Homo sapiens: one gene and its partners. The protein of the gene in region 2 purifies or fractionates together with the protein of the main gene of each other region. This does not show direct contact. Each region holds a gene or a part of one and is shown on either strand. Other genes may lie near its edges.

What was found.
Region 1: the proteins of MINDY3 (region 2) and ZNF644 purify together in Homo sapiens (affinity purification with mass spectrometry; 3 studies listed by BioGRID and IntAct, with this or other methods). This does not show direct contact.
Region 3: the proteins of MINDY3 (region 2) and RLIM purify together in Homo sapiens (co-immunoprecipitation; one large-scale study listed by IntAct). This does not show direct contact.
Region 4: the proteins of MINDY3 (region 2) and PKP2 purify together in Homo sapiens (affinity purification with mass spectrometry; 2 studies listed by BioGRID and IntAct, with this or other methods). This does not show direct contact.
Region 5: the proteins of MINDY3 (region 2) and MCM5 purify together in Homo sapiens (affinity purification with mass spectrometry, with the first as the bait; one large-scale study listed by BioGRID). This does not show direct contact.
Region 6: the proteins of MINDY3 (region 2) and IBA57 purify together in Homo sapiens (affinity purification with mass spectrometry, with the first as the bait; one large-scale study listed by BioGRID). This does not show direct contact.

Annotation. Positions count from the first base shown.
Region 1 is NC_000001.11:90,913,825-90,918,493, forward strand, and holds the end of ZNF644 (zinc finger protein 644), read right to left. Parts: intron 4,331-4,669; coding exon 4,228-4,330; intron 3,167-4,227; coding exon 2,974-3,166; 3' UTR 1,480-2,973; downstream 1-1,479.
Region 2 is NC_000010.11:15,776,683-15,781,069, forward strand, and holds the end of MINDY3 (ubiquitin carboxyl-terminal hydrolase MINDY-3), read right to left. Parts: intron 4,285-4,387; coding exon of another isoform or gene 4,195-4,284; exon of another isoform or gene 3,167-4,194; intron 2,460-3,166; coding exon 2,310-2,459; 3' UTR 1,492-2,309; downstream 1-1,491. UniProt on the Homo sapiens protein: Hydrolase that can remove 'Lys-48'-linked conjugated ubiquitin from proteins.
Region 3 is NC_000023.11:74,582,576-74,587,628, reverse strand, and holds the end of RLIM (E3 ubiquitin-protein ligase RLIM), read left to right. Parts: 3' UTR 1-4,653; downstream 4,654-5,053. UniProt on the Homo sapiens protein: E3 ubiquitin-protein ligase.
Region 4 is NC_000012.12:32,791,567-32,795,880, forward strand, and holds part of PKP2 (plakophilin-2), read right to left. Parts: intron 1,166-4,314; coding exon 1,078-1,165; intron 927-1,077; coding exon 858-926; coding exon of another isoform or gene 713-857; 3' UTR 1-712. UniProt on the Homo sapiens protein: A component of desmosome cell-cell junctions which are required for positive regulation of cellular adhesion.
Region 5 is NC_000022.11:35,419,087-35,424,139, reverse strand, and holds part of MCM5 (DNA replication licensing factor MCM5), read right to left. Parts: intron 4,257-5,053; coding exon 4,128-4,256; intron 2,823-4,127; coding exon 2,680-2,822; intron 927-2,679; coding exon 799-926; intron 1-798. UniProt on the Homo sapiens protein: Acts as a component of the MCM2-7 complex (MCM complex) which is the replicative helicase essential for 'once per cell cycle' DNA replication initiation and elongation in eukaryotic cells.
Region 6 is NC_000001.11:228,171,335-228,176,387, reverse strand, and holds part of IBA57 (iron-sulfur cluster assembly factor IBA57, mitochondrial isoform 1 precursor), read right to left. Parts: intron 1,819-5,053; exon of another isoform or gene 1,778-1,818; intron 1,697-1,777; coding exon 1,359-1,696; intron 1,267-1,358; coding exon 875-1,266; 3' UTR 1-874. UniProt on the Homo sapiens protein: Mitochondrial protein involved in the maturation of mitochondrial [4Fe-4S]-proteins in the late stage of the iron-sulfur cluster assembly pathway. Operates in cooperation with ISCA2 in the maturation of [4Fe-4S] proteins.

The DNA of each region.
Region 1 (4,669 bases), on a different chromosome or scaffold from region 2:
CTGGGATTACAGGCGTGAGCCACTGCGCCTGGCCCAGACTGGAATTTTTTAAAGCCCTAATTTAGCATTAGAAGCTTGCATATCTCAGGCAATGGTAAAAGAATTAAAAGAAAATTAGTCAATACTGAATGATAAATCAGGCCATATGCTGACATAAAAATCTATCATGTAAATTGAGACAATATTTTATACTTTTCTTCTAGTGGGAACCAAATGAAAACATATTATTAATTTTCTAGTTGCCAAATAAAAGACGAATTTTGAATGCTTCCTAAAGAATTCTTTAAATTTTGTAACCCAAATATCTTTACTATGAAAAATGCTCTTTGCTTAATTTACTTTTCAGGAGTCACTCTAGTCTACTGTTTCTGATGTGAAATATTTTATTCTGATGACTGAATTCTTTATATAACTAGAAGGAGAAATAATTGTTTACATATAGTTCAACATATTTTAAAATTAAATGTAGTTTTGATTCCGAAACTTGTGGTCAAACTAATTCTTCTACTTGTATTCACACATGTTGATATTTGGCCTGATAAGACAAAATCATAGAAGTGTAAGAATTAGGAGGCCAGGTGTGGTGGCTCATGCCTGTAATCTCAACACTTTGAGAGGCGGAGGCGGAAGGATCTCTTGAGCCCAGGAGTTCAAGCACAGCCTGGGCAACATGGTAAAACTCTGTCTCTACGAAAAATACAAAAACTAGCCAAGAGTGATGACATGTGCTTTTAATTCCAGCTACTTGGGAGGCTGAAGTGGGAGGATCACTTGAGTCCTGAGAGGTTGAGTCTGCAGTGAGATATGATCACACCATTGCACTCCAGCCTGGGTGACAGAGTAAAACTCTGTCTTTAAAGAAAAAAAAAAAGAATTAGAGTGGAAAGGGGCTCTAGTGATTACTAGCCTTCCCACAAGATTCCTATGATTTTTGTTTGTTTGTTTGGTTTTTACTTCTGGACTCCACTTGCTATGTAGTATGTCTTCCAATTTAAAAATATATATTCAAAGACATATAACTATCAACGAAACTTGTTCAGTAAGAGATAACCAATATATACAGACTTGGTATATTTTCAGTCAAAAGTAAAGAAATGGGATGTTTTAGTTAGTTTTGTCACTATAGACAAATACATAGTTTTTATCGGGACTTTTGTAAAATTGAAAATAACTTACAAGTACTATTCCCTTATCTATTAACCTAAGGATCAGGAGACCCTTGGTTGGGAATGATCCAACTAGTCCAACCTTCTAATTTTGCATATAAGATGGCTCTGAATTTAGAGGTTTGATTAATCATGAAAGGGGGAAAATGATTTTTCTCACATACATTATATTGACCAATGAGGTGATTCTAGAAAAACTATGCTCTGTGATCCAAGTAACCTGGCAAGGATAAACAATTTAAATCCAATGAAACACAACCTGAAGTGAACTATTACCACCAATGATAAAAATAAGAAATGTTTCACATTTTAATTTTCTTTAAACCTTTTTTTATTTAGAGATTTTTCTGGTAAGGAGATATACCATAGGAAAGCAATTTCACTGGCAGTGAGGTATGTATATACTCTACCAAAATACTCCTTATTTTAACTGTTTTTAACTTTATTTACATACGAAGCAAAGAATCAATGCATATCCTTGGTTCAACTATAGTATTAGCCATACTACATGAAATAAAATGGTGCTTGCATACAAAAACTTGTTGTTTGTAAAGGAATCTGATTTCAGATTAAAATACCTAATTGTTTTTGGAAAAAATTTTTAAAAAGAATCACAATTTATCATGACCAAGACACCTGCACCATATTTTCCATTCCTCACAGCACATTTATTTCAGTAATTCTGTTATGTCGGTTCTTAGCATGAGCATAGTGTTACACGATTTTCGTACATATAATCACATCCAAAACAAGTTCTAAAATTTAAATTGTAAACATTCTCATATGTAGAAATATTTTAATTGGTGTATTAAGTTTTGCTAACTGATCAAATTTGGAAGATAATATAAATGAGAACGTCTATTCTAAACTGTGTAGTGAGCATTGTTTATTAATTACATTTCTACAATGTTAAATAAAGTAAGAGGCAAACCTGTCCTGTAAGCATGTCAAATTTTAGGTAAAACATTAAAAAGAAACAAACCTGTTAACAAAAGAATGTCTTGCAATAAAGAACATTAGATTTTTAAAATCTATTATGATACAAAAATGTAAAGGGTAAATAGCATCTTTGTTGACAAAGTAGGAGGTAGCATGGATGCACCACTTTATTGTCTGAGAAATGCAACTGGAGTAAAGAATATTTCCTTACCACAAATAATTTCCAGAACTATGTACATATTTCTTTTAGAAATACTTGTTTAAACAAATCTCCCTCCACTTTTTAGTATAAAAAAAACCGTTCCATGTGATTTTAAAAAAAACACTTACACATCTAGATAGAATAGTACTCTGCCCTATTTGAGTGAACAGTCTCAAACTATGAAGTACATGATATTTAATGCCCTAATTTGAGTAAATTTAGTCAGCGGTTCTTGGTATTATACAAAACACTAAATACATACAAACAAAATATAATATCTTATTTTTCTATGCAAGTCTTGTGGGGAATAAACAGAGCCTTGATTCTGGTAACACTGCAAAAAACATAATTGTCCAATAAGTCTGTCTATAAGTATCCATGTGCAACAGTTTATTAATGGCTGCTTACATGTACTGCTCTTTTACTGAGTGAACACAGTTAACCAACAAAACTTCATAAACCTTAAAAACACATCTTCCACCCTATATAAAATATATAGACTACTTACTGTTTTAAGTATTCAATTTGCTCTGATGTCACTGTAATTCACTTTCCCCCCATTTTCCTGCTTTAGTATTTATAAACAGATAATTTAATGTGGCTTAAAAAAAAAGAATTTCAAATTTACATCCAATTCAAACTGGCTATTTAAAAGGTTTCCTGGTTCTATGAAGCTGCTTCGGCCATTAGTAGAGAAAATGAAGTTTCTGTAATGGAGGCAGGCTTTTTAAGTAGTGACGTGACTTCCACCATGCCAGCTCCAGTCCGTGGAAGATTAGCGTTTACAATATGTCGTTGTAAGTGCTTAATCCAGTCTTCCTGAACAGACAAGGGTCCTCGAAAGACTAGGCCACAAAACCTACAGAAAGATAACAATTCTCTTAACATGACCAATTCTCTTTCTTTAAAACTAATTCACACAAAATCCTAAAACATAAGGAATAAACTTTATCATATTTTAAAGACAGCAATTGATAAAGTTTCTAAAGTCAAATGATTTAATAAAACATCAAAACTCCCAATTCATATGTTTATTAACAGCTATAATAAACTCCAGTAATCTTTGTATAGGTGGGAGCATTATTATTTTAAAATTAACATCTACACATCTTAATTCACTTGAAACAACAACTATTACTCCAAAATATGTCATTCTTTAGAAAAGACCCTTCCCCAGTTTAGCATTCCTTAAATGGCATTGTGTCTATGTTTCTTCATGTGTGTTGTGTGTGAGTGTGAGTACGGAAGAAGGCGTGACTATGAGGGGAGAGAAAATGTGTTCCCAATAAGCGAGAACTCAAGACAACAAAACATCAAACCAAACAAAATTAAACCATACAAACCAAATAAACACAAGGAAAGCCAGTTTTTTTTTCTTTTTTCTGAGACAGAGTCTTGCTCTGTCGCTCAGGCTGGAGTGCAGTGGCACGATCTCGGCCCACTGCAACCTCTGCCTCCTGGGCTCAAGCAATTCTCCTGCCTCAGCCTCCCAAGTAGCTGGGATTACAGGCACCCGCTACAAAGCCTGGCTAATTTTGGTATTTTTAGTAGACACGAGGTTTCATCATGTTGGCCAGGCTGCTCTTGAACTCCTGGCCTCAAGTGATCCACCCATCTTGGCCACCCAAAGTGCTGGAATTACAGGCATGAGCCACCACACCTGGCCAAGCTACTTTAATAAATCACAGTATAATAGATTTACATTACTATTGGCTAATGTAAAAAACTTGATTCATTAGTTGTTGAAGTACGGATATTGTGAGCTGAATTAAGATTTTAAGCCTATCTCCAAAAGTTCATTTATAACTTGATTGTTGAGAATGCACTCTGCCACAAATTAAAAATCCCAAATGAAATAGCTAATATGTTTCAAAGCAAAGTATGAAGAAACTGATCAGATTTGGCAATATAGGCATATACCTGCATCGGAGAATGTAAACCTCGTCAGCACCATGAGGTAATGTTAGCATTTTCTTCTTGCTTCCAGATCTTGACCTTGATTTCTTTTGCTTACAATCTAAGGCTAAAAAGGGGAAGAGAAAGACTTAACATTCCTTATATATTTCAAAATATACATACACACATATTTTTCTAGAGAGGTCAGACAGACCATCTAAATCAGTTAGAAAAAGTCCGCATTCATTTCCCTATTCCCTGAAGCATGCATTCAACTTGCTGATTCTGTAATAGCAGTAATATTATCTGTACTGTACAGCGGTATTATCTGTACTGAAGAATACTATCTGTATTCTTCCTATACTGCCTTTTCAAATAATGCTTTACCACACCAAACTAGAACTGAGAAAATGTAACTAAATAACTTGAAAGTACTAAATTGGTCAATTATTACAATAATGGTAAT
Region 2 (4,387 bases):
AGTCCAATTTATCTTTGTTGTCATTTGTGTTTTGTATCTTATCTAAGAAACCATTGCCTAACCCAAGATCATGATCAACTCCTTTGTTTTCTTCTAGGGATTTTATAGTTTCAGCTTTTATAATTAGATATATAATCAATCATTTTAAGTTACTTTTTGCAAATGGTGTGAGGTAGGGATCCAAATTCATTCTTTTGTATATGGATATTCTTTTAGGATTTACTTCCTCTTATTTTGGGTTTGTTATTGAGATAAAAGCTTAGGTTCCCAATTTTCAAATGTTTTACTTTTCTAATATATCATATTTAATGCTATATATTTCCTTTATTTTTGCTATGTCATATTTTCATTAACACTCAGTAGAAAGTATGTTCTAATTCCCATTGCAATTTCTCTTTGACCCTTTGGTAATTCATTAGTGTGTCACTTAATTTCCAATCTTTTGAGATTTTCTAGACTTACTTTATTGCCAGCATATAATCTAGTTTGGTAAGCAGCCCAAGTGCATGTGGAAAGGAAATGTTCCCATGGCTATTTAAATGTAGTGTTCTACAGCAATGATATCAAGCTAAGGTCCAGTCATGCTTGCCACGTGAGTAGAGACAGCTTCAGAAAATTCTAGCCCCTGGCTGCTGACTGAAGCAGACAAGCCATGCATCCCCACCTTGCCCCGTTTAGATTCCTGAGCAAAGAATTTGTACATTTAATCAAATGGTTGTTTTATGCCATGAAGTTTTGGGATGATTTGTTGTGTAACAATGGTAAGAGGACCATTCTATTTCATAGGCTTGATGTTTATGAGACAATCTACGATTTTGTGTAATCCTTTTGGAATTTGGGATTATTAAACCAGAGTTTTGAGAAACTAATTCTAGCATTATATATTTTATACAGATTTGGAAGTAGCCTAGACCAAAATATTGACATTTGAAAGCTGTAAGTTTAATAAGTAGTATCATACTCCTGAACAGAATGTCACCAAAAGTTATACACAAAATCTCATGCCTTTCCCTATGCTTAATTATATTGTAATTGTGTGTGTGTACGAAAGAAAACAAAACCCAAACAGAAATTCACACAGGAACTATACTATTGAAGGTAATGTTCAGTTCTGAAATGTGTAAGAGGATACTACATAATTATCTGCTTTACACGTGGCTTTACACGTGGAGGAAAAAAAGTATTAATGGCTATGTGATTTTAAATTGCTGGGCCACAAACCTATCAGAATACAGCAGATCTCTCTCTCAAGTAAACGGGCTTCTGCATCTTTGCTCACTGGTCTAGAAAGCTGCCATGTGGGTTCTCATGCTTCTGGCTGGCTGAGTTAGCAGAGCTCTTAGGTTAGCATAAGGCCTGGTCTCTTATTCGAGGTCCTGTATGACTTAGCCATTTGTAGTACTCTGTGCTCTCAGGGTTATTGGGTAGAAACATTTAGAAGTACGTATTTGTTTATTTTGAGCCACCAATGTAAAAAATGCAAGGGTACAGTTAAAGAAAAAGGTGTTTATTTAGGCCATCAACTAGGATCATAATAAATAACGTAATATACTAATGTAATAACAGATCTTCTCATGCATTTATCGTGTTTATAAATATAGAAGAAAGCTGGCTTACAGGGCTGTTGGGACAAATTTGGAAAAGTGTATTTGGCAATTACACAGTAAAAGTTAACAGTGTTGACTATCAGATTCTCTTTTCTGTCAGTTTTTAGAATACATCCCCTATACATCTGTGAATAAATGGTAATGGTCTCTTAGAGTTTCTACTTTTTGTGAACATGCCAGAGTTAAGTAAATTGTCAAAGGATCCAGGTTGACAATGTGTTATTTGTCAATATTTCTAATGAAAAACAGATCTTAGAAAAATGAACTCTTCTGCATTTCATTGTAGAGGCTGATATATTACAAGCCGGAATCATTCAAACAATAAAAAAAGTGCCTCAATGAAATAAAACCCAAAAGTAGTTTATCAATAGTAACTGTGATACTTAATATACAAATGCTGTAGTATTGCGTTTGTAATTTGGTAAGTAAATGACCAAGTATCTGAATGCAAAAGTGATGAACTTTGATGAAAGCTTAATTTTGCTAGTAAATTTCACACGAAGGGGTAAAATAGGATAATCTTTAACATAAAGCTTTAGGACAAATAATTTAAACATATCATAAACACTGAAAATGTGTTTTTAATTGTTATTTACAGTTAATCAGTGATACCAGTGTTTAGCTTAATCCAGCCAATTGCCAGTCTTGACTCCTTCTTTCAACATCTGTTATTAAGATCTTCCTTATAAATACTTAGACAAATTAATTTAGTGAAGGAGAGCGATCTGTGGTCCAGAGTAACTCAATGTATGGCCATTTGGTTTGCAGACAGCGTTTAATAGGAGTGTCATCTGTCTGTAGCATGGGATCTTCAAAACCCATCACAACTGCAGTCCCTTCTACGTACATGACCTGTTGAACAAAATAAAGCCACCAAGGTCAAGCAACAGTCTTAGCAAATTCTTATGTGGAATGAAAACAATTTTTAGAGGCTAGCAAATAAGGTATTACATAGTTTCAGATGAAACTTGACATGTAATTTTATTTTGCTAGAAATGAGAAGGAATATCTGCTTACTGATTAATGTGAAAGTAAATTTGTAAACGATATTTAATTGCTAGCTGGCCAGGTGATTTTTAAAAAATTCAAGATCATGTGAATCCTAAAACACATAGATTGTTTCTAAGAAAAAAAACATTCTTCAACGGATCTATACCATCGGAAAGAAATGCTTAATTATCATATTTACATATAATTTATACAGGTCCTACTGCTTTAATACTGAGGTTCTCAGATGCTCATGCTGCCTAATGAAACGGAGAGCTATAAAAGGAATATAGCTATTATGTTCTGAGGAACATGTGTCTCCTTCTAATTTAAGTATTGAATTTCTAGAGCTGAAACCAATTTGAATGTTTGTCAACAAAACTTGCTATTATGGTATTAAATATTCCTGAAATGCAATTCATGAGTGCATTCTGTACAGCATGAAAAATCATGGAGAAAAAAATTAAAAAGGATGTCAGGACAGAAAGAAAAGTAAAAGAGACGTTGAAAGATCAAACTAACCAGATACTGTATATGCAGTGGCAGTGATCACAGAAATATATACTGGCAGGTGAATAGCAAGAAAAATTTTATTCTGATTAATTTACAATGAAACATACTTAAAAAGTATTTTGGACATATCAACAAAAACCCTAACTCATTACCAAGGGCTCACTGTGGACATTAAGGCACTCCTTGGTGGTTAATTTCTTTTTTGTACCAAGAGAAATTCTGATGCTGTATAATTTAAAAGAAACAGATACAGACGACTGTCTTCTTCCAAAGTGTATAAAATTATTTTTACACATTCACTGGCTGATACACATGAGTGTAATTATGTTCTTCCAAAATAAAAGCCATAAGCTATTTAAGGAGCCAAAAGAAACAACTTTATTATCCTTAAATGGTAGTTGCCTCTAAAACACATTAAATATAGGAATAGAATATATTACTAGATCAGATAATCTTGTGTCATGAATCTACTCATTCCTAAGAAAGTGCTAAAGATACATTGTAACGTGAAATACATTTTTTGGCATCTTTATTTTAGTTAATATATTAGTTTCTAGTGTTGATGAAATAAATTGACATTGAAACTACAACTCGGGCTTTTCAGTCCCCAAAGCAAAACTGCCTTCTCTGAAAAGTTATACACAAAGAATATAATTCAAGTTATTAAGTTAAATACAATCGGCCCTATTTTTCACAAAGAACTTCATGTACTCATGTCATTAGAGCAGAAGTGCTTGGGCAAGGTGCCATGACCCACCTCCATGGCCTCAATCAGGCTCGGATGCCTGGCGGCTCAGACTCCATCTCACTTTGCCAGCATTCTCCTTTTGTCTGTTTCCTTTCTAACAGGACCTTGCTATGCAGCTTATAATTTTAGCTCCTGATTAACTTCAAAACATATTTCTGTGACTTAATGACATCCATACTTTGCTTTATAGCTGCTGTATATTACTGTCATTTTAACAGTTCATCCTATTTGTTTTCTAATCTTTTTGTTGGTGTGTCAGAAGCTTGTCACAAACATGATTTGAAAACTTATACTACATACAGGTAGAGTGGCCAAGCAGACCAAGGACAGGATTGGGAATCAGGAACTCAGTTCCAATCCCTGTTCTGCCAATGACTTGCTGTGTGACCCTGGGTGAGTCACTTGATCTCCCCGTCTCAGATGCCTCATCTGTAAAATATGGATAATATTTGACCTATCTTGCAGGGATTGTGTAGGTGAATAATTAGTGATTATAAAGTACCTCCTATTACAAAGCTGTGCAAACATCAAA
Region 3 (5,053 bases), on a different chromosome or scaffold from region 2:
TCCTCTTAAAAGGCCATTTTTACAGCTTGCTAAAATACAGTGGCACCTTATGGTTGTTAATATTTTTTCTTTTAAAGATGGAGAATGTTTTTATTCTTCCCCTTTTCTCCTTTGTTCTTTTGCGAACAAAAAAAATTATAATCTGCCTTATTTGATTTTTTTTTTAAGTTTTACCTTACAGGCTTCCCTGTCACATGTTTTACCATATTAAGTACATAGAAGCCATGTTTGCAGGGCACTTTTATTCTCCTAGTCTTATAAGACTATGCTAATTGTTACTTTCTGAAGTATTCTGTACCTTAGTATGCAAGATTGTTAAGGCACATGTTAAAGTGTCAGGTGTGTTTTTTTCCCTTTAATTCTTCAGTATGTTTATATTCAATAACAGTATTGTAATTCATTGAGTTAACTAGTAAATTGTGTGCTTTTGAAAAAACATGAAAAATGTAAATTGACAGCATACTTCATTTGGAAAAAAGTAAAAGATCCGAGGAACTAGTATGTCACTTATTTATTTTTATTTTATTTTATTTTTTACTTTTTGAGACAGGGTCTTGCTCTGTCACCCAGGCTGGAGTGCAGTGGCATGGTCACAGCTCACTGCAGCCTTGACTTCCTGGGCTCAGGTGATTCTCCCACCTCAGCCTTCCAAGTAGCTGGGACTACAGGCATGCACCACATTGCCTGGCTAATTTTTTGTGGAGATGGGGTTTCGCCATGTTGTCCAGGCTGTTCTTGAACTCCTGGGCTCAGGCAATTTGCCTGCCTCATTCTCCCAAAGTGCTGGGATTATAGGCGTGAGCCACTGCGCCCAGCCTTACTTATTTTTAAATCAGATTTTTTAATCAACTAAAACAGCTATGAGTTAAGTACCTGCCCTGCAAAAATTTTTAGAAAAAGTTTTAGGATTATGAAATTAAGAATTATTTTCCTTAACTGGAACAGTTCTAAAATTTATCTGATACTTCTCTAACAAGTGAGTGATCTCATGTAACCCCAGTTTGTATCTTAAAGGCTGCAGCATAGAATTGAGCTGTATAACAGTGTTAGAACTGTCAAGTGATAATCACAGAACAGTTTGTATCGGTTTTATAATTCTCATGTCTTGATCAGATCTGAAGGAAATAGGCATACCCTCCAACATTCTAAAAATTATTTATTTTTATTAGGATTTGTTTATTAAAGTTCCACGAGCTGCTTTATGGTCAGTTGGGCTGAGTAGTAGATATCTTAAAGACATGCAGTGAAAGTGAACCCTGTCATATCATGGTGCCTCTTTCAAGGTTCCTCTGTAAGTTCCTCATCTTGCAGAATTATTTCAATACCAAGGTATGGTTGAACCAGCTGTCCAGCCTTAACTCTATTTAGTGCCCCATTACTAATGTTCTTTTAACTGGTTTGTATGTGTTTTAACTGTCCAGTGTTTGGATTTTACCTCTTGATAGCTCCATTTGTCCCTGGTGCTGCTTTTAAGGATGTAGGGCCATGTGATCAGGTATCAAGTTGAGTAGGTACGCAGTTGGCCTGGTGATGTATCTGTGCCTGTTTTATCTTCTCCCAGGAAGAGCTGCTTTGGTATAGTTGTTTACTTGGATTCATACAAAGAACAGGGCAGCAATCTTGGAAAGCTTTCTGAAGCTTATAAGAACCTGAAGGGGTTTGGAGGGGGAACAGTAACAAAGGCTGCCTTTATGTCTTTGGTCACAAAGCACATAGATGTATGTTCTGTAAAGACTAAAGTGATTGTTATACCAGGGCTTCCTGACCTTCGGGAGAGACTCAAAAAAGCAGAGAGGAGCACAAAGTGAAGTTAATTTGGTTGGCTTGCTTTATCTGGTTTCTCATTTTCTTTCAATTTAAACCTGAACATAACACCCTTCTCCGATACCTATCCAGCAGACTCCTGGTTGGGAAGCCCTGTATTAAATTTTGAGAATGTACACAGTTTTCTTTTGTACAGTGCTTTACAACTGCTAAAAGTTAACTTGTTTAAAGCAAAACAAGACCTTGAAAGGTCAATCATATTAAAGCTGGTTTGATTATTAATAGTTATCTTTTAGGAAGAAGCTTTTTTCCCTATGTAAGATGTCATACTGCAGATTTAAAATATAGACTATCAATAAAATGCATGAAGTGATCATTTGTGCTTGATCATCTCTCCTTGGGTTTTTCTTTAAAAAGGGGAATCTGCTATAAAGGTTCTGTTGCTTCAAACCAATGTCAAATAGACTTGATTTTTAGAGTCATGGAATTACAGTGCAACCTTGATTTTTATTCCCCTCACTGCTATGAGTGTGGGCAGGTACTGGTTTATATGTTATAACTTCCGTTTTATCTGTGTTGTGTAGTTGAATGGCTTAATCGTTGAGTGGTAAAATAAAAGATTATATTCCAATACAAGAATCCTGGAAAGATTTATGTGAATGACATTTTAAGTAGGCGCATCTTTGCTGTTTCTTGTATTCTCGCCATTGCTCTGACCACTCCCTTGCTTGCCCTGTATATATACAAAAACTTGTAGGTGTGCACGTGTGCTTGTACTTCTGTCTTCCATTTCTATCTTAATCTCTTAAACATATTGCTTAAGCCACTAAGATGTCCTTGTTTCAAGTAAATCGTCACATTGTGACACCTGGTGTATTGTATTATAGTTTCATTTCCTCTGGTGCCTGCAGAGCTATCTGTCATTGGCATCATAACTCGGTTTCTCAGGATAGTTTTGATGTAGTCAGCTCTTCAACTCATGACCTTCCCAAGGTTTTAAGTTTAGTGTCATTCATGATTTTATTATTTGAAACTCAATACCACCATCAAAAAGTTAGTGCTCTAGACAATGAAGCCAAAGCACAGGCATCTTAGGTCAGTGAAAAGGATCCAGACATAAATTAGCCAGGTGTGGTGGTACACAGCTGTGGTCCCAGCTACTTGGGAGGCTGAGGTGGTAGAATCACTTGAGCCCGGGAGGTCAAGGCTGCAGTGAGCCATGATCATGCTGATGCACTCCAGCCTGGGTTACAGAGCAAAACCTTGTCTCAAAAAAACCCCCAGATACCTAGAAGAAAGGATTCGATAAATCTGGGTGGATTATAAACTGAACTCTTAATGGTCATTTTAAAAAATAAGAAAGCAAGGGTCCAGTTTCTTTGAGGTCTTTGAATTTAGACAAGATTTAACTATAAGGCCTTGCATGGATTACTAACTATAATTAAATTAGCTAAACTTTTCTGGTTGCTGTCAGGCATTGTATTAAGTATTCTATATAAATTATTTAATCATCACAGTGACTGTGAGGTGAAAGTATACCACCCATTTTATAGGTAATGCAGCTGAGATACAGATGTTTGGTAATTTGCCCAGGTCACATAGTAAGTAGCAGATTATTTGCAATCATCTTTGATGCAGTCATCTTCCTTGTGCTCTTAATCCCACTACTATATGACTTCTAATTTGTTTCTTAGTATTTATCCCAAGCCCTAGACTAGATTGCTTATGAGGTGTGATTTCTTAGGAAAAACATCAGTTTTGGCTGGTTTGCCAAGAAAAAAAAAGGCCAAATTGGTTTTTGTTTATTTTTTTGTTTGTTTGAGATGGATTCTCGCCCTGTCGCCCAGGCTGGAGTGCAATGGTGCGATCTTGGCTCACTGCAACCTCTGCCTCTGGGTTCAAACGATTCTCCTGCCTCAGCCTCCCGAGTAGCTGGGATTACAGGCGCCCGCCACCACGCCCAGCTAATTTTTCTATTTTTAGTAGAGACAGGGTTTCACCATGTTGGCCAGGCTGGTCTTGAACCCCTGATCCCATGATCTGCCCGTCTCGGCCTCCCACAGTGGTGGTATTACAGGCGTGAGCCACCACGCCCGGCCGCAAATTGTTTTTTGTTTTTTTGTTTTTTGGAGGATTAATGGTAATATACTGTAAATTCAGTAAAGCACTGGGCATTACCAGATACACCTTAGCACTATGAATAACATGAACTATCATTTTAGCAGTTTAAGTGTACCTTGTAATCAGCCCTAGGGCAAACGGTATCAAGGTGTTTTATTTCCAGAAGTCTCAAAATAGACTGGAATAAAAATTTGGTGAATTCATCAACACAGACAATGGGTCCACGTCTTGCAGCTACAGCTGCTGCAGCTACTCCTGCTGTCCGCACCGTTCCACAGTATAAATATGCTGCGGGAGTTTGCAATCCTCAGCAACATCTTAATGCACAGCCACAAGTTACAGTGCAACAGCCTGCTATTCATGTACAAGGTCAGGAACCTTTGACTGTTTCCATGTTGGCATCTGCCCCTCAAGAGCAAAAGCAAATGTTGGGTGAATGGCTGTTTCCTCTTATTCAAGCCATGCACCCTACTCTTGCCGGTAAAATCACTGGCGTGTTGTTGGAGATTGATAATTCAGAACTTCTTCATATGCTCAAGTCTCCAGAGTCACTCCATTCTAAGGTTGATGAAGCTGTAGCTGTACTACAAGCCCACCAAGCTAAAGAGACTGCCCAGAAAGCAGTTAACAGTGCCACCGGTGTTCCAACTGTTTAAAATTGATCAGGGACCACGAAAAGAAACTTGTGCTTCACCAAAGAAAAATATCTAAACATCGAAAAACTTAAATATGGAAAAAAATATCAAAATATAAAAGAAGGAAACTGAACCGTATGTACCGAGCAAATGCCAGGTCTAGCAAACATAATGCTAGTCCTAGATTAATTGATTGAAAAACAAAAAACACAAAAAAAATAGTAAAATATAGAAACAAATTAGTGTTTTATAGACCCTGGGAAAAAGAATTTTCAGCAAAGTACAAAAATATAAAACATTCCTTTCTTTAATTTTGTAATTCTTTACTGTGGAATAGCTCAAAATGTCACTTCTGTTTTAAGTAACAGAATTAATAACTGAGCAAGGAAACGTAATTTGGATTATAAAATTCTTGCTTTAATAAAAATTCCTCTTTAACAGTGAAAACAAAAACAAAAATTGGGGAATTGTTAAATGGTCATCTCAGCCCCTTATTACGTGTGCTCTTGGCCCCAATTATGACAATTTGAAAT
Region 4 (4,314 bases), on a different chromosome or scaffold from region 2:
ATTACATAGAATGCCATCGTTTAGAAGAGATTTGGATTTAACGGCGTTGTTATAGGTAAAGTATCTCCTGAGAAAAATCTCATTGACTCAGTGTTTGGGGGAACGTTAAATTTTATCATCACAGTTGCCTTTCTCTGTGGAAAAGATTTTATTTATTTATTTATTTTTTATTTTACTTTAAGTTCTGGGAGGAAAAGACTTCTTTAATTTGCTATGATCACTTCCTCTCAATTTCTTTTTCTTACAGTCATGCATACTCTGTAATCTAAATTTCTTAAGTTTATTTAAAAATCAGAGAAAAACAACCCAAGGGGATAAAAACAAGCACAAAGTAAAGAAAGAAACCAATAATTTTGCCATTATACTTTCTCCTGGATAACTGCAGATATTTCTTGTCATTTCCATTCTGTTTCAACACTGCAGAACAATACACTGGAGGCCCAATGGCGAAGCAATGTGCACATGAGTGACAAAACATGGGAACCAGAAAAGGAATATAAATGTAAATCAAACTTTTAAAATCCCAGTAATGCAACAGCTTCTTTCCTTATTTATTGGATTAATGTCCCTTCCACATGAATTCACATTTTGATTCCAGGAAGCCATGTACCATAAGCCCTAATAACAAAGACCACTATTTGTCGAGCCTGTGGCCGGTATCTACTGGTGGCAAACTTGCAAAGGTCTTCTGGAAGACTCATAAAATTATGTTCTATTTGTTTTCTGGATTCAGGGGACCACGGAAATAGAGAAGGATAGAAACAAGGCATGCTTTTGAGGTTTCTTGGGCTGGGTAGTAGAAAAATAGGTGTTTTCCTTTGGGGATTTTTGCAGCCGAGAATACTTTGTCATTTTCCTCAGTCTTTAAGGGAGTGGTAGGCTTTGGCAGTCCGGCTGTTGACAAAATCTGTCTTCTTAAACTGAGCCTTTGGAATAAGCAAACAGAAACGTGAAAGGTAACAAAACTGGCACACAAGAAAATGCAGTTTTTTAGCGATTTCTTCCCAGGGTCAAGTCAAGTGGGCCATTATTACCTGGCTCTGTTAACTATGACACATTCCTTGTTCATGTTCTTACCTTCTTGTAGGCATGATGCAGTTCCGTGTGTGCCCACAGAGAATACAGAAGGACGGAAGCAGCTTTACTTGCTTTGTTGGAGGCATAGCTGAAAAGAAAAGGACATTCTGAGATCAGGGAGAATGAGTGAGGCTTCTGGATGCGGCCTGTGGGTGTTCTGTAAGACCTCTTCGCTCCTCAACTGCTACTCCGCAGCAGCCATCCATGAAGTCAGGCCACTCGGTGACCAGACAATTAGGCAGCAAGCTCTGCAAGGCGGGGACCATATCTGTTTTTGTTTTCTTTTTAAACCACTAGCACAGTGCTAATAAATAAATAGTTTATAGGCCAGGTGGGGTGGCTCACGCCTGTAATCCCAGCACTTTTGGGAGGCTGAGGTGGGTAGATCACGAGGTCAGACCATCCTGGCCAACATGGTGAAACCCCGTCTGTACTAAAAATACAAAATCTAGCTGGGCGTGGCAGTGTGTGCCTGTAATCCCAGCTACTCGGGAGGCTGAGGCAGGAGAATCACTTGAACCCGGGAGGCGGAGGTTGCAGTGAGCCGAGATCACGCCACTGCACTCCAGCCTGGTGACAAAGCTAGACTCCATCTCAAAATAATAATAATAATAATAAACAAACAAGTAATTTATACAGAAAAATCCCTGATATTTATAAGGAATGTATCTTTAGATATGTTATAAATCCTTGAATTATTTATAGAATATAATCTATATTTGTATACTTATAATGTATGTTTATAGAATAAAAATGCATGAAACCATGACTGAAAAATACATACGATTTTGTGACATCATGAATGTAGGAGTAATTTTTCAAGTCAATAAAAGAAATTCTTGTGGCAGCCCTTGTTAAAGCAGTTTCAAAATCTCTTTACGTTTCCATATAGAGCAAATGGAAAACTTGTTCTTGCTATAAATCAAAGTCACCACTGCATTTGAACTGTACTTAGTCTTTCATATTCTGCTTTTTTTTTTTTTTTTTTTTTTTTGAGGCTGGAGTGCAGTGGAGCGATCTCGGCTCACTGCAACCTCCGTCTCCCAGGTTCAAGCGATTCTCCTGCCTCAGCCTCCGAAGTAGCTGGGACTACAGGCGCATGCCACCACGCCAGGCTAATTTTTTGTATTTTTAGTAGAGATGGGGTTTCACTGTGTTAGCCAGGGTGGTCTCGATCTCCTGACTTCATGATCCGCCTGCCTCGGCCTCTCATAGTGCTGGGATTACAGATGTGAGCCACTGTGCCCAGCCCATGTTCTGCTTTTAACTTTATCCTAAATGTCCCACCTCTGGCTTAGATCAGTGCCGCCTTAGATCTCTTTCTCTTCTATCACCTGATTAGCACATGGCTGATTTTTTTTCTTAAACAAAGATTCTTTTTCCCCCCATATCACAGGCATTTGTAAACATAAAACCAAAACCAGAGAGTGCAAAGATGTACGGAGAAGAGCATGGTGTGTTCCTTCAAGAGTGAAAAGTCTTTCTCCTCCATACTAGCCTGGCAGGGAGGAGCAGTCAAATCAGCACTTATTAGTAACCCCTGGACTTTTCAGAATCACTTGGTAATAACTGAAGGGCAAATAAATCCATCAAAGTGATGGGTCTCTAATATTCAAAACTGTAAAAAGTTATTAAATTGCAAGGCTGTTATATTCATAATATTTGTTTATAAGTTGGTTGTTTGATACTTGGTACTCTTTTATTCAAAGATGTAATGTTATAAATGATAATTAGTTCCCAGGCTAGTCCACAAACGGTAGGTCAGATATATAACACTCTAGTAAGGAAAGAGCAGCAGACACCACTGGCAAGAAGCTCCTTGTTAACTTTTGTTTTTGAGACAGGGCATGTGAGGACTCACAAGTGGACACTCGGAAATAAACAAGTAACAGAGTAGCTCACCCCTTATCTTGCTAAGCTACCAGAAGTTTCCAAAAGTAATTGCATATTGCCATGTGCAACAATTGTTATGTCTGAATACTCGAATAATGAGCATCATACTATCTTACGGTGATTTGCTTGGAAGTTTGGATGACTATTTGGAAGAAAAGTCATTTCTGTTTTGCAACAGTAATTCACTCTTTCCACAAAGACTGAGCAACTCTAATACTATCTGCCAGCCTCTGGGGATGGGTGAATATTCTTGGGGAACTGACACTCCAGCCAGTGCTCAGGGCTTGTTTTAATCTGACTCTAAATGCAGTCTTCCTTCCTTGTGTGCACTGCAGAGTGGGGCTGCAGAGCAGAAGGGGCCTAAATTGGGTGGGGCTGTAGTAGAGGTAACATGTACATCCCTGTACAGCCAAGCACACATTTCTTCAGTACAGGTGAAGTCATCTGCTTTGTAACTCATTAAAACTAGGCTATCATAGCCATTTCTTTTCTTGTTTGGTTATTTACAAAAGTAACATATCTATTTGTAATAAGTCAAACAATTCAGAATTGTATAAAGAGAAAAAGATAATCTTCATGCCCCTTTCCAATCTCATCACTCTAAATTAACTAATAGTAAATAATTTGGTTATACAAGGTTTTTCATTCTCCTCCTTTTTTTTTTTAATAGGGAAAAGTTGAAAACAGGAACACAGATGTGGAATGACATGCATTGGACCTTCTATTATCAAAAGGGAATAAGATGCGGAAGAGATAAGACAGAGAAAAAACTGTGAAAGCAAGACTTTCTCATCAGGCTACCCCCTGACTGCTTCTCCTGTGTCATCACTGCTGCTGCTGCTTTTTTTTTTTTTTCTTTTTTGAGACAGAATCTCACTCTGTCAACCAGGCTGGAGTGCAGTGGCACGATCACGGCTCATTGCAACCTCTGCCTCCTGGGCTCAAGTGATTCTCAAACCTCAGTCTTCCAAGTAGCTAGAATTACAGACACGCACCACCACACCCAGCTAATTTTTGTATTTTTACTAGAGACAGGGTTTTGCCATGTCGGCCAGGCTGGTCTCGAACTTCTGACCTCAAGTGATCCATCTGCTTGGGCCTCCCAAAGTGCTGGGATTACAGGCATGAGCCACTGTGCCCAGCCCATCACTGCTTCTTCTAAACCACCTGGTGTGACATCCCCTCCTAAGATGGAAGTGAGGAAAAGGGCACTTGCCTATTCAGAGGACTCCTGCTTTGCCTACATTCTGCTGTTATTAAATCACAGCTGTGGCTTTGGGAAACTAATTCATTAGGCCAATACAATGCTGGAATGCACAACCAAGAGAAGTTCTGGAGTCTGAC
Region 5 (5,053 bases), on a different chromosome or scaffold from region 2:
GGCTGGCTAACGGCACGTGCTGCCCGAGGGGACTCCGACAGAGCCCAGACATCCCCAGGCTCACGGGGAACTTTGTACTCAGGCTCCTTTGACCTAAAGGGCCCACACTTCCTGAGTGCCCACTGTGTACCAGACACTGAGGCACACGGAGGCTAAGCCACTTGCTCAAGGTCACAGCAATTAAGAGGTAGAGCTGGGACTTAAGTCCCATCTGACTCTAGAACCGAAGCTCTAAACCTTTCTCTAAGCCTCAGTCTGCGCACCTATAGAATAGACACGATACCACCCATTAAACTGCCCTGAATCAAAATGAGATGATGTACAAGGAGCGGAGACCAGAAACTAGGATTAATCCTGAGATTTTAAAGGTGACAGGTTTTCCAGAGCATCTGGGAAATCCCATCTTCTCTCTATGGGGCCAACAGTACCCTCCTCAGTGAGCCAGAAAGCTCACTCTCATGGCTCTGCCCCTTCCCACTCCATGAAACGCCCGCCAACGGGGAAAGGCACAGACGGGAAGGGCTGCGGGGAACTTGTATGGGGTTTCACCAGAATCCAACCACCTCTGCTCTCCCCTCCCCTTCGTGGGACAGAAAAAATACCCCCATCCCTGCTCCTGATGAAGATGTCCCTAGGGAAGGAATGATGGCTAGAAAAGGTCTGAGAAAGGGACAGTTGTCCATCCTACCCCCGTTCAGGGCCTGTCTGCTGAGTAAGATGCCAGTGCTGAGTGGGTGGGAACCAGCAGAAGACCTGCACCCCGTGCCGGCTCACACCCCCACTCCAAGGCAGGCTCACCTGCTTGGTGAAGTCCTTGATGATGCTGTGCTCAGACACCTGGGAGCCAATGGCAAAGCGGCGCTTGAGCTGCTTCTCGATGCGGCTCAGCATCTCCTGGTCCTCCTGGCTGGTGAAGCCCTCCACCCCTGTGGGCATGGAGAAGTGAGGCAGCCGGGGAGCTGGGACAATGGGAGTTCTTGGACAGAGACAGCCTCTAGCCCAAGGAAGAACAGCCTGAGCCAGGCCCCGAAGAGTAAGTCAGAAAAGGGCACCGAGTGTGCCAGGGTGGTGCAGGCCTGATTGAGGAGACAGGATATGGCACATGTGGGGACACTCCAGGCCAAGCACAAAGTCACAGAGGCAGGAACACACCTGTCTCATTCAAAAAGCAGCCCGGGGCCCAGCGCAGCAGAGACATGGCCAGAGTGTCACTAGGGACCAAGTCCTGCGGGCCCTTGGAGGCCACAGCAGGACTCCTTTTGTTGCTGGAGCAGATAGATTAGAGAGAGAGTTGGAAGGGGCCCATCAGTGACCCAGGAGGGAAGCCAGCCTGCCCTGGACACATCTACGAGGTGCCCTGAGGAGCCCTCGGCAACCAGGAGGCTCGTGACTTCCAATTACTGCCACAGAGGCCTTGGTGTTTCAGCTAAGGAGATGGTGGGCTCATGGTCAAGAAGTCATTGAGAGGGGAGTCTGTGAGGCAAACTCCTACATAGCCCATAAGACCCAACTCAAATTATCACCACTCCATATCACCCCTGCCCTCTGTGCCTGCAGCATCCCAGAGGCCTCCACCTGCAATGTCTCATGTGACAGCAAGTGTCTCCAGGGTAGAGGCTGAGTCTTCACCAAGGGGGACAGGAGGAACAGGCCCCACCCACCCCATTCCTCACCCAAGTGCCTCCCCATTCAAATGCACCAAACCTGCTCCCTCCTGGGGAAACTGACACTTAGCGCTGCCTCCACCTGAGCAGCTCTTCCCCCAAGGAGCCACACTGTCCCCTTCATGCAGCTCCCTGCTTGGCATCACCTCCTTGCAGAGGCCATGCCCACTCACTCCATGGGAAAGAGCACGTCCTCCTTTTCCAACACACCTGGCCCTGCCATCATCTCCCTCACTGCCTTTTTCACTACCTACACTACCTGCATTTGTTTCTCTACTGTCTATCTCTCCCCAACTAGAACGAGAATGAGAACCCAGGAGGGCCGGGACCCTGTGATTGATTGCTCTTATACTCCCAGCACCTAGAACAGTGCCTGGCAAACAGTAACACTAATGAAGTATCTGCTGGGTGAAGGAACAGATTTTCCCCAGCGTAGGTAGCCTGGCTCATGATCGGTGCCTGGGACAGTCTGTTGAAAGGCTGACCGAAACCAGACAGTATGGCTTATGGTGTGGAAAACGCTGGCCTAGGGGCCAGGAGACTTGCATTCCAGCCAAGCGACTGTGATCTTGGGCACCAGGGAAAGGCCCCTTCGAGTGTCAGCTGTCTCATTTCTAACATGGGCAGGACTGACTGCTCACCTGGCTTCCAGGGGGCAGCTGTAAGGCAAAATGCAAGAAATAACTCTGGAAGCACTGAAAATGCTGACAAGCTCTAGGAAGCAGAGCATCAACTGTTGTTCCTAGCCAGTGAGAAGGGTTATCATCAATGACCTGGGTCAAGAGGATTGTGTTCAAGGGTCTGGAGAGAAGCTGCTTCTTCCCATCTTGGAGGAAACAGCGGTGGGGAGAAAGGAGGAGAGGGGTCTTATGGCAAAAAGAAACTCAGAGAAGCTCAGCAAACTCAGAGAAGCAAGACACACACTGCAGGCCCCCAGCAGGCCAGAGCCCTGCCCACAGAGCTCCGAGCCAGGGAACCCAGATCAATTGAGACCATGGCCCCTGCATCTGCTCACCTGACAGGGTACCGGACAAGGCAGCATCCAACGTGGACACTTGGAAGAGCCGCAGGGCCTCCTCCACATCTGCCTCTGTGGCGAAGGGCTGCAGCTTCATCTTGCTGAGGGCTTCCGCGATGCGCACAATGGCCTCCAGCTGCCTGTGGGGGCAACAGCGTGCTCAGGGTAGCCTCGGTCCGCTATTCCCTTCCTCCCCAGCCAGCCCGTTACCAGGGAGGTGCTTGCCCAAAGTGGTAAGACTGTGGTGGAGACTGCTAGGTGTCCCCATAATCCATCTCCCTTTTGATCTTAGTCATAGAACTGCAATTTTTTTTTTTTTTTTTTTTTTTTGAGACAAAGTCTCGCTCTGTGGACCAGGCTGGAATGTAGTGGCATGATCATAGCTCACTGCAGCCTCGAACTCCTGGGCTCCAGTGATCCTTCCACCTCAGCCACCTGAGGAGCTGGGTCTACAGGCATGCACCACAATGCCTGGCTAATTTTTTATTTTTTGTAGAAATGGGAGTCTTGCTATGTTGCCCAGGCTGGTCTCAAACTCCTGGCCTCAAGTAATCCTCCTGCCTCAGCCTCCCAAAGTGCTAGGATCACAATGTAGGCCACTGCACCTAGCTTGGAACCCCAGTTTTTAGTCTGGCACACAGCGATCCACTAAAACACATCCCAGACATCTTTTGTACCAGGTTGTATTTGTGTGACCAATCTATGGCAGTAAGTTGTAAGTCCAAGCATTGTGTGGGACTTCATGAAGTGTCCTTTAAAAGGGAAGCTCTCTTTCCTTCCTGTCCTGCTGCCTGGAGGTGATGGCTGAAGTTCTAGCGGCCATCTCGGACTAAGAGTAAGGGGGAGCTTGAGGAGTCCTCACACCAGTCCCCATACCATCTTCCTCCAGACAGTGCTACAGAAAAGAGAAATGAACTTCCTATTTCTTTAAGCTACTTTATCTGGATTTACCATTACTTATAGCCAAATCCATTTCCAACCAGTCAGTGCTGGAGACAGGATTCAAACCAGGTAAATCCCAACTCTTACCCACTGTATTGTCTACAAAGTCACAAGAATGAACAGAGTTAGGAGCTAAAAGCACTGAGGGCCAGAGAAGGAATGTAATTTCCCTACAGTCACACAGTGGGCTAGAGGCTGGGACCCAAGACTCTTGACTCCCAGGCCTGGGTCCTTCCCTCCCTTCGGGCTTCCTACAATGGGAGAAGCCAGGCCAAATTCAGACAAGAGGGGTCTAGGTTTGCCCGGCCTTAAATCAAGAAACATGGATCATCATTGAGATCAAGGAGGCCATAGTTTATGCTCCAAAGGGACTCTTCCTGCCCAGAGCTACTATGGGCCTGTGCCAAGTGAAAAGCCTGGACCACTGCCCCTGGTTGCCAAGCACACCCTGCTGTGTAAAGCAAGCCCCATCTGCCATGGCCCAGCCCTGCCCGCCTGCTCACCGCACAGTGATGGGGATGCTGGAGCGGCGGTCACTGTCCCTCTCGTGCTGACGGGCCCCGCTCCGCATGATGATGTAGCGGTTCTTCAGTTTCTCTGCAGCCTCTGCTGACAGCCGGGGGCCACACTTCCTGCAGGACAGTGGGGAGAGGCTGGTGTGAGGCCAGGAGGGACTCTTAGGGCACCTACCCTTTCCCCCAGCCCCCTGCCAGCTTACAGACATGCACTTTCCCACCACACCACAGCTGCCCACTCATATGGGCTGGGGGACAACAATCGGAAAAGATTTAAGTGAAATCTGGCTGTGGGCAGCTGCCACAAACATCAACACTGGGGAGAAATATGGGTGCCTCTCTTAAAAAACAGGTGAAGAAAAGCCAGGCACGTCTGCAGGGTGAAAACCGCCTCTTCCCCACTGTTAGACGCTGTGTGGTGTCTTGCCACAAGGTCCCCCATACATGTAATGAACAATGGCACAATCACAGCGGCATGGAGGCCCACTGGGTGGTGGGCTTTGCAGCAGTCTCAAACTCCTCCACCCAACACATCTGAAGACACGACAAGCTGATGACACCCACAGGAGGCTTGGCGGTGACTGCAGTCCAGGGGCTGGGAGCACCTCAGACTCTCCTGGGACGGTAGGTGTGGGGAAGTCTGATCAGCATCTACCCTATCCCATCCCCTCCCCTCTAGCCCCCAGGCCAACTGACAGTCACTGATGTAGGGAAAGCCTTAGCTCAACCATCCTAAGGATGTGGAGACTGAGACCCAGAGGGAGGGAGGGAACTCCCCAAGGCTACCTGGGGACTTAGTGCAGAGGGAAGATTAGAATCCAGGGCTCCCTGACTCACAGCTGTGGGCCCAAGCCTCTCAAGACTGGGCCACACAGAGCTCAGACTTGGATGAAGACCCAGGGACTACCCACTCA
Region 6 (5,053 bases), on a different chromosome or scaffold from region 2:
GGGGCTGCCTGTGGCTCACTCTTTAATAGATGCCCTGAAACATAGAGCTCACACTTCAGTGGGAAGGGGGAAGCCAGTGGGTGAACAGGAGGCTGTGCCCCGTGACTGACAGCAAGTCACTCTCACTGCAAACACAGGCTATGCCAAAACCCAGCACACACAGGCAGAACTCTGCCCTGCTGGCTCCTGAGCCCTGCGCTGGCCCCCACCCCACGCTCCTGGAGGGCTCTGAGGAGGAACAGAGGTGGGGAAACATGGGAGATGGGCACAGCCTTCCACAAGCCTCCAGCATGGGATACCTAGTGGCTCATCCCTGTGTGCTTCTCGATGTGTAGACACCCACATGCCACCTGATCCAATGCCCCAGACCCCTCTAGACCACGCATAGCCCCACCCTGAGACATGCTGGAAGCAAGCACAGTGAAACAACTCCCAAAGCCCGAGCCCCAGCCTGCAGACCCTGGACACCACCCCGCTTCCAGGCACAGGGACCAACCCCCCATGAGGCTCATGCCAGGCAGAGTGGGGTACAAGGCCCGGAAGCTGCCAGTGCTGGCCAGAGACACCGTCCCGTCCTCCCAGACAACCCTGTGTGGAGCCACGATTGGGACCCGGCGCCATCTGGAGCCCAGCACTCACACGGTGGGCTCCTCTGGGGCCACAGGAAGTCCAGGGAGAAAACAACCCACGTGCCTGGGGCCCCTGAGCATGGGTGGGGCCAGGCAGGGCACCTACAAGGGGGACTTTCCCAGATGGAAACCAGGGCTCCCACCCAGTAGGCGCAGCAGACAGATGGGACGGGAAGACCCTGGACAGAGGCCAAAGGCCCCAGGCCCCAGCCTCCCCATCAGCCTGCGCCAGCCAAGGCTTCGGACTACTTGGAGACTGTAGGCCACCAGTCTGGCACAGATGCGGCTAAGGCCACCTGGGCACCCTCAGAGGCTCTGATGTGCAGAGGACCCTTGATCTTCTCTGACCACAGCAGGGCCAGCCCCACGTTGCCCTGGCCAGCCCTGAACTTGCCCACAGTCTGTCCTGAGGCAGTCAGCACCGTGGCACCAGGGGTGATGCCACTGGTGGGAAGGGGGTCCAAGAACCGGACAGGGAAGAGGCGCTTGCGGATGACGCCCATGTGGTGGGTGCGGGCCGTCAGCTCCTGGCCAATGTAGCAGCCTTTGGTGAAGCTCACGCCGTTCATGAAGGCCAGGTTGGACTCCAGGGGCAGGGCCACCCCAGGAGGCAAGTCTCGGACCCCCTCAGGAACGCCTGCAGGGATTGGAGGGGGGAAACCAGCGAGAATTGAACATCGTCCAGCTCCACCCGTGCAATCCAGCCCAGCGTGCCCACCCCACCCATACCTTGCAGGTATCGGTGCTGGTGATAATCCCACAAGTCCCCGAGCCGGCCCCCGGGCACCAGGGCTGGGCCTTCATCCTGGGTGAGGAGCCGCCACCCCATGCGTGCTGTTCGCGGGTCGCGGATGAGGATGGCGGCAGCCCCTGCCCTCTCCTGCAGCGATGCAGCCCCGCAGGCCTCAGGGGAACTGGGCAACACCGCCCACACTCGCAGCTCCGGGTGCGGCTCCACCGTGACCTTCCGCCGGATCCTGTATAGCGCGAGGTGCTTCTGCAGCGCGCCCTGCACCGAGCTGTCACACTCCAGAAGGAAGCCAGACACCTCCGAGTGTTCCTGGAGCCTGCAGGGAGAGAGGCAGGGGCGCATGGCAGCTCACCAACTGAGTGGGCCAGAAAGGGCTGCATGAGGGAGCGCGCCTTACCCGGGCAGAGGAGCACACCGTGGACCAACGCAAAGAGCTCTGCCCTCAGCCACAAGGGGCTGCGCCTTTAAGGCAAGCGCCCAGGTCACCACACGCAGGGAGCCACGCCCACAGCGAGCCACGCCCACAGCGAGCCACGCCCACAGCGAGCCACGCCCACAGCGAGCCACGCCCACAGCGAGCCACGCCCACAGCGAGCCACGCCCACAGCGAGCCACGCCCACAGCGAGCCACGCCCACAGCGAGCCACGCCCACAGCGAGCCACGCCCACAGCGAGCCACGCCCACAGCGAGCCACGCCCACAGCGAGCCACGCCCACAGCGAGCCACGCCCACAGCGAGCCACGCCCACAGCGAGCCACGCCCACAGCGAGCCACGCCCACAGCGAGCCACGCCCACAGCGAGCCACGCCCACAGCGAGCCACGCCCACAGCGAGCCACGCCCACAGCGAGCCACGCCCACAGCGAGCCACGCCCACAGCGAGCCACGCCCACAGCCACACCAGGCAGCACCTCCCAAGGCGCGCATCACAGCTAGATGCGGGCACCTTGGAGACCAGCGCAGAGTGCCGCGCCCACAGCAATGCGAGGGTGCGTGCAGACAACGCACAGCAGGCCAGGCAGGGTACACCTGGACCAGCGCATGGAAAGCCCTGCCCACAGCCGTGCGCAGCTGAGCCTCCGGAGCTCTCGTCTAAGCAGGCAAAGACGAGCTCACAGGGGCCAGCGCAGACAGACCCTGTTTGCCCAGGGACTGGCAGAACTGCAATAGCCTGCCCGAGGGCATCATCCGGAGTAGTCCCAGAGCCTAGGGCAGAAATGACAACAGTCCGCTGGATGTGGGAGCAGGGATGGGCAGGGCCCCGCAGGGGAACGGTGTGCACAGCCACTGAGAACCAGACCTGCCTGTTCCAGCCCAGGGAAGCCATCGAGGAGCCCAAGGGTCCTAAGGTGGGCAGGAGGGAGGAGCAAGGAGCCCAGGAGGTTGTCAGGGAGGTACAGCATGCCTGAGGCCCACTCTGCCCATGCCCACCACCTGCCTCCCCAAGCCAAGTCTCAGAACCCAATCGGGGCCCCAGAGCCATTCTGACCTGCACTCCAGGCAGCCCTCCTCAGAGGATTTGGGCAGGCACCACAAGAATGACCCCTGACCAGACGGATGGTGGGAAGAGGAGAGGCTGGGCAGCGTGGGGCATGTCGGGGGGGGGGGCACTAAGTGGAGACACCTGGGGTACAGCCACCTCCATGGCTGGGGTTGATTGCAGGTATGGACTGCACAGGGCTTCACAGGCTGGTGGGAGCTGAGACAGGGAGGTAGTAAGACCCCCAGAGGGCCTTCCAGAGACAAGCCCAAGAGCAGGTGGCCCAGCCCCTTCCAGCCAGGAGAGGGCTCAGTCCTTGCCAGTTGCCCAGGGCTTCAGGTGCCAAGCAGGGGCCTGCTGCCCTCATCTCTGCAGTCTCACTCTACCCTGTGGTCATGCCCACGTGCCAGCAGCCACGGAGAACGTTCACGCTCATCACCCAGAACCAGTAGGCACAGGTCTCACTGAGGACCCTGCCGCAGGGAGGGTGGGCATAGCCAGCTGTGACAGCCAGTGAATCTGGCCCACACTCCAGGACAGCGGTCACAGGACATCAAAAACAACACCCACAAGGGAGGGGAACATATGTCATTTACACACGTGGGCTAAGATGACGGGAGGAACAGCAAGGACAGCACAGAGGGGCAGCCGCAGGTGTGCCGCGGAAAGGTCACCACGCCACCAGGGAAACACAGGCGATGTGGCCCAGACAGATGCAGTGGTGAACCTGAACACTGGCCAGCATGAGGAGAAACCAGGTCACTGGCATGCTGCTGGTGGGGAGGCAAAACGGGTGGCCCTCTGGAAGACAGGGTGCAGGTCCTCACAACACCAAACAAGCAACTACTCCACGACCTGGCCCTCTCACTTCCGGGCATGGATCACTGAGAAACGAAGACTGCAGCTCACACAAAACCTGCAGCGAAAGCTCACAGCAGCCAGCTATACTGGTAACAGCCAGAAAGGGAGAATCAAGGTGCCACTACACCATGTGGGACTTCTCAGCAAGAACAGGGAGCTGGAGATGGACAGAAGTGGGTGGATCTGAGGGCACTATGGTGAGGGAAAAGGGTAAGGCTAAAAAGTGACAGGCCGATGCATCCATCTATGACACTCCTGAAATGACACGATTTTACAGCTGAGAACAGGTTTTGGGGTGTTGGGGGTGCCCATTCAGGGGCAGGAGCAGGAAGCCGCGTGGGCCTGAGAATGGCCACAGATATTCACACGTGATAAAACTGCAGTTATACACATGCGTGCACAGACGCACAAAGTAAGACACACAAATCCAGAGACCCCAGATATGCCCTGTGTGTGCAATCAGGGGAACTGGGGAGGGGTCCGTGCGATCTCTCCCACGGGTTTTGTTTTGTTTTTTTTTTTGCAACTTCCTGTGAATCTATAATTATTTCAAAATAAGAAGTGAAAAAACAACAACAACAACAACAAAAAAAAAAAACAAGGAGCTTCGCCTGCAGAGGTGTCCGAGCACTACAAGAGGAAAGGCAGCAGGCAGTCCTTTCATCCCAGCCATCTGACATCAGCGAGTTTTTAACCACGTGCATGCATATTTGTATTTTTAAAATCTATAGTGGGGTCAGCAGACAAAGATGGACCAAAACACAGGTGAGTGGGGGACCCGGGCAGAGGGACAGATGTGAGGTCATGGGCACAGGATGCTGGGCGCCGGACAGGCAGGGAGGAGCTGAGCGACGCCAGGCAGTAGAGGGACAGAGTAAGGGGACTAGAGTGGAGCTGAGGGACCACAGGTCCAGGGTCTAGTGAGCCAGGCACACAGGCACAGGGGAGGCCGCAGAGCCCTACAGGGCAAGGGCAGGAGCTGGGGCAAGGCAGGCAGGGTGGGGCCAGGGTGCCCCATGGGTCCATCAGTCAAGAGTGGAGCCCAGAAAAGATCAAGCTGAGGGCCCCTGCACTCTGAGGTGGGGCCAGCTCAGCTGCCTGCCTTGGCAGGAACCCCCACCCATGCTGACACCCCCTGCTGCCCCCATCTGCTGAGCACTCCCTGGCCTCACACAGGGTGGATGTCCTCACAGGACCCAGGTTCTGGGGTCGAGGGCACTTTCCAGCTCTCTGTGCCGGTGACTGTCTACCAGGCAGCTTCTCAGGACCAGCTGAGCTGGGACATGACCCCCGGGCCCACCCCAACCCCTGCCACACCTGAAGACTGCCAGG